2 separate regions of the Homo sapiens genome follow, and region 2 is linked to region 1. Evidence: fine-mapped expression QTL. A gene starts in region 1. The other region holds a variant in brackets. All regions are shown on one strand. Distances are between the middles of the regions.

Region 1 (2,500 bases):
GGATTCAATTCCTTATACAGAATATAGGAATAAATATAGGAAGAGATCTCAACTACCTGGGAGTGCAATAAAAGGCTTCCTTCAAGATGCACTAGGAATTCTATAAGCTGTGATGGGAGCAGGAACCGAAGTCCTGTGAGGAGTAAAACTATATTTATCTGCTGTAGCTTGGGGGTCAGTTTGTGCAAAACAGTGACTGAAACACATATGGCCTGAACTCATGTACTGAAGGACTTTCTCACATTAGATATATTTAAGTAGTGGAGTTGACTCATTCAACATTTTAAAATATTTGTTGAACACCTGCTCTGGAACAAGGCTTGCGCTCAACGCTGGGATCAAAGTGGTAAAGACAGGAAGCATCCCTGCTTCAGCTATAAAACTGTAGTTGCTACCTTTGAGAGCCATCTTTGGGCCAGGCACAAAATCAAATTCTGTGTGTCTTTATAACAGCCTGATGAGACCGTTGTTATTAAGAACTTCACTAAATGTGAAGAAATACACTTAAACTAAGAAATTAGAGTCCCATTTTAAATGCAGGCCAAATGACTGAAAAAAAATTTAGAGTATAATTAAAAAATTAAAAGTACACACTTAAAATGTAGTTTGATAAGTTTTGACAAACGTATATATTTTTACACCACCATTGAGATATAAAACATTCTCATCATCCGAAAAGATTCCTTTGTATCCCCTTCCCAACCACTGATCTGCTTTCTAACATCGTAGTGTTTTCTAGTGTTTCTTATAGATGGAATTATACATTATGTACTCAATTCTTACTTCTTTGACTCAGCATGAATTTGGTGGTGCCCATCACTAATTCATTTTTATTACTGCTGACTTCAGACCTTTAGGGGAGAGAAGACATAAATCAAATAATCACCTAATTAAGTATTTAATTACAACAGCATCAAGTTAACCTAAGGGTAAGTACAAGTGGAAATACATTACCTTGTTTGTTAACAATTCAATCAATACGACCTTGGTGTACAGTGGGGGGCTATAGGGTCATGATTCAGCTTGTGGAAAACAAATGAAAATAAATGTTAGCGAAGAGTGACTCTAAAGAACCTCTGTCCTCACGGTAATTTTTTTAATGTGTCAGATGCTGGTGGGAGGCATTCTTCCTTAGCTCTTTACTCCCATCCCTTACACTTAACAGAGGAAAGGATCTGTAAGGCGCGTACCCCTCTACTGCCCACTGTCGACGAAAACAGCCTCGCCCTGCACCGCCACCGCCACGCATAAGGCGGTGTGTGGGCAGCTCGGACGTGGCACCTGCCCTCAGCTGCTCAATCCCGGGCGCCGCGACGGTCACGTGCACAGCGGCAGGCCTTTTTGCCCCGCCCCCGCGGCCCGGCTCCTGCGTGGGCCCGGCCCCGCCCACAGCCCGCGCAGTCCCGCGAGCCTGGCCTCGGCGGCCCCAGCTTCTAAGGAGCTCGTGAGGGCCAGGCTGCGCCTGCGTCGGGCGGCTGGTGGGCGGGGCGAGGGCCGCTGGGGCCGCGAAGTGGGGCGGCCGGGTGGGCTACAAGCCGGGTCTGGGCTGAGGGGCGCGGCTTCGCGGTGGACCCCAGCCCGGCAACGGGAAGGCGAGCTCTCCTCCACCGTCCAAAGTAAACTTTGCCGCTCCTTCCGCGGCGCTCCCGAGTCCTCGCCGCCGCCGGGCCGCCGCAGTCCGCGAAGAGCCGTCCTGCGTCAGGGCCTCCTTCCCTGCCCCGGCGCGGGGCCACTGCGCCATGGACGCCACAGCACTGGAGCGGGACGCTGTGCAGTTCGCCCGTCTGGCGGTTCAGCGCGACCACGAAGGCCGCTACTCCGAGGCGGTGTTTTATTACAAGGTAGGGCCGGGCCCGGCGCTTCGGTCGGAGTTGCTCAGTCGGAGTGCGGCCCGGGCCTGCGGCCGAGGGGCGGGATCCGGGTGCGGAGGCTAGCGGCCCCGGCTTTGCTTTTCCCTCGTCCGCCTCCCGGCCCTCCTCTTGTTGGGAGCGGCAAGCCCGAGTGCAGAGGCCGACGCTGAGGCTGCGGGGAGGCTGGGTCGCGGCTTGCAGCCGCCGCTCCTCCACCTGTAGTCCTGACTGGCAAATGCCCACCGTTGAGCCGCTTTGGGGGGCAGGTGTTAGATATGGGTAGTTAGTAGCCAATTCTTGCTGTCACTTGACTCTGATTTACAGCTAGCGGGAAATGGCCTGTGATATATATCAAAATAATGCATGCTCGTTAAATAAACTTAAAAAGAATAAAAACCATCTCCTGTCATAGCATTTGACATACAGTCATGCGTCCTTAGCGATGTGATATTTTCTGAGAAATGTGTTCTTAGGCCATTTTGTTGTTGTGCGAACACCGTAGAAAGCGCTTACACAAGCCTGAATGGTACAGCCTGTTCCACACCTAAGCTGTATGGCATGGCCTGTTGCTCCTAGGTTACAGGCCTGCGCAGCGTGTTGCTGTACTCAGTGGTGTGTGCAGTTACATGCAGTGGTAAGTATTTGTGCAT
Region 2 (3,021 bases), 240 kb after region 1:
GTCAGCTCTGTGCCCCTACCATGCCTCAGACTGTCATAGCCGACACCAGAAAGCCAGTTGCAACGTTAACAGGAGAAATATTTCTCCCACACTGCTGCAATTGAAAAGTGTCATAACCATTCCTTTTTTTTTTTTTTCCTTCAGAGGGAGTCTTGCTCTGTTGCCCAGGCTGGAGTGCAATGCATGATGCTCACTACAATCTCTGCCTCGCAGGTTCAAAAGATTCTCCTGCCTCAGCCTCCCAAGTAGCTGGGATTACAGGTGCCTGCCACCATGCCCAGCCACGTTTTTTGTATTTTTAGTAGAGATGAGGTTTCACCATGTTGGCCAGGCTAGTCTCAAACTCCTGACCTCAGGTGATCCACCCACCTTGGCCTCCCAAAGTGCTGGGATTACAGGCAAGAGCCACTGCATCCGGCCAACCATTCCTTATTTTGAGTGACTACTGCTTTCTTTCCAATGACATCTCTAGCCTTGCTTTGTTACTCCCGCCACCTGAAAAAAATCACTGTGAAACTTTGTGAATACCCCTAGATCCCCAAAGAGGTGATTGATTTGGCCTGAGCCACTAAATAATGATAACAACAAATAAAATCCAACACTTCCAAAACATTTTTTTTTTTTTTTTTTTTTTGGAGACAGTCTCACTCTGTCACCCAGGCTGGAGTGCAGTGGCACGATCTCAGCTCACTGCAACTTCTGACTCCCAGGTTCAAACGATTCTCATGCTTCAGCCTCCCCAGTAGCTGGGATTATAGGTGTGCACCACTACACCTGGCTAATTTTTGTAGTTTTAGCAGAGTTGGGTGTTTCACCATATTGGCCAGGCTGATCTTGAACTCCTGACCTCAGGTGATCTGCCCACCGTGGCCTCTCAAAGTGCTGGGATTACAGGCGTGAGCCACCACACCCGGCCTTAAACCATGTTATCACTAAAATTCACCACAACCTTGAAATAAGGTACTATTATTCCCCATTTAGAGGTAAGAAAACAGAGACTCAGAGAAGTGAAGTAAATTAAGCGGGTTAATTAAACAGCGAGTTTGTGGCAGAGCCAGGCTTCAAATCCAGATGTGTGAATCCAATCTTCTGCTTTTTTCACAAACTACACCACATCTTTCTTGACCTATGGCACTCTGTGAGAAGTCAGTCTCTGTGAGTGGACCTGTCAAAATCAACCAGGCCTGCAATCCCAGTACTTCAGGGTGTGGAGGTGGGAAGATCGCTTGAGGCCAAGAGTTTGAGACCACCCTGGACAACATAGTGAGACTCAATCTCTACCAAAAAAAAAAAAATTAAAAGACT[C/T]GAACAGCAGGCCGGGCACGGTGGCTCACATCTGTCTATAATCCCAGCACTTTGGGAGGCCAAGGCAGGCAGATCACTTGAGGTCAGGAGTTCGAGACCAGCCCAGCCAACATGATGAAACCCCATCTCTACTAAAAGTACAGGCCGGGTGCGGTGACTCACACCTGTAATCCCAGCACTTTGGGAGGCCGAGGCAGGCGGATCACGAGGTCAGGAGATTGAGACCATCCTGGCTAACATGGTGAAACCCCGTCTCTACTAAAAATACAAAAAATTAGCCAGGTGTGGTGGCGGGCGCCTGTAGTCCCAGCTACTCAGGAGGCTGAGGCAGGAGAATGGTGTGAACCCGGGAGGTGGAGCTTGCAGTGAGCTGAGATCACACCACTGCACTCCAGCCTGGGCAGCAGAGTGAGACACTGTCTCAAAAAAAAAAAAAAATACAAAAATTAGCCAGACATGGTGGCTTGTACCTATAATCCCACCTACTCAGGAGGCTGAGGCAGGAGAATCACTTGAACCCGGGAGGCAGAGGTTGCAGTGAGCTAAGATTGTGCCACTGCACTCCAGCCTGGGCAACAGAGCGAGACTCCATCTCAAAAAAAAAAAAAAAAAAAAAAGAATCAACCAGTAGCTTTCTGGGTATGGTGTGAGCAGTCTTCCCAAAGGTTTGCCTCAAGCAACTCAGCACCTATTCCTGCCAAAAGGAGAAGCAAAACCAGATAACCAGTGGAATGGACATTATGTGTGCCCTGTACCCATTCCCCCAATTCATGCTCCCCAATATTTGGTCCAGAAGTCACCCCCATGTAGCCTCTGTGCTTCTGCAGAATCTCCAGGGGATAGGCTAAGAATAACGTGTCTAACAGTGCTAAGCTAAGCCCATGGCCTGGGTCAGCAACATTCTAGAAGAGGAAGAGCATTGTAGCCGATTGTTTGGCTGGATGGTAGTGATGGGGAACAGTTCCCAGGTTGGGCATGCAGAAGGTTTTCCGGTACTTTGGATTAAGACAGGATGCAGTGGTCCTAAATTCTTATAACCTTTGTCTCCATGGGTTCAGGAACCCAGCCTTCATTCGTCAGCAAGTGCCATTCTCCTGACCAATAGAAATTGGTTCAGTAACAGGCGTGTGACCCAAAGCAGACCAAGGAGGCTCACTGCCTCCTTGGTTTGCTGGGGATTTCCAGAAAATAAATTTTCTTTCTTTTTTTTCTTTTTTTTTTTTTTTTTTGAGAAAGGGTCTCACCCTGTCACCCAGGCTGGAGTCCTGTGGTGTGATTATGGCTCACTGCAGCCTGAACCTGCTGGGCCCAAGCGATCCTCCTGCCTCGGCCTCCCAAGTAGCTGAGAGTGAAGGTGTACGCCACTCCACCCAGCTGATTTTTGTATTTTTTATAGAGATGGGGTTTCGCCATGTTATACAGGCTGATCTCGAACTCCTGAGCTCAAGCAATTCACCCACCTTAGCCTACCAAAGTGCTGGGATTACAGGCATGAGCCACCATGCCTGGCTGGAAAAGAATTTCTTGAGAGCCACTGGAACAGGCATTGTCTCTTCCTCTGGATTCTGCAGGGTGCAGATGTAAGCTTGAAACTGCAGCAGTCAACACCCTAAGGATCCACCCTAAGGATCAAATTAATGGAAAGGTTCAAATAGTTGAGAGGATAGTAGAGGAATAGAGTGGGGACCTTGACTGAATCATGCCTGATCACCCCAC

Alleles and levels. Alleles are on the strand shown, and positions count from the first base shown. SD is a standard deviation of normalised expression in the study named.
With allele T in place of C in region 2, the expression in prefrontal cortex of the gene that starts at base 1,490 in region 1 is lower (large effect, 0.92 SD a copy in BrainSeq).

What was found. PIP is the estimated chance that this variant, and not a neighbour inherited with it, causes the effect.
Region 2: its variant is the best candidate, but not a certain one, in a credible set for the expression of CAPN7 in prefrontal cortex (BrainSeq, PIP 0.59).

What each region holds. Positions count from the first base shown.
Region 1 is chr3:15,204,757-15,207,256 of GRCh38, forward strand. It overlaps CAPN7 (calpain 7), which reads left to right and starts at 1,490. Exons shown (of 21, transcript NM_014296.3): 1 at 1,490-1,841. The coding sequence starts at 1,740. It also overlaps the pseudogene COL6A4P1. RefSeq lists a silencer at 1,196-1,715.
Region 2 is chr3:15,444,919-15,447,939 of GRCh38, forward strand. No RefSeq gene overlaps it. Among named protein-coding and RNA genes, the nearest start is that of EAF1, 19 kb to the left of the region's middle. The variant C/T (reference allele first, on the strand shown) is at 1,306.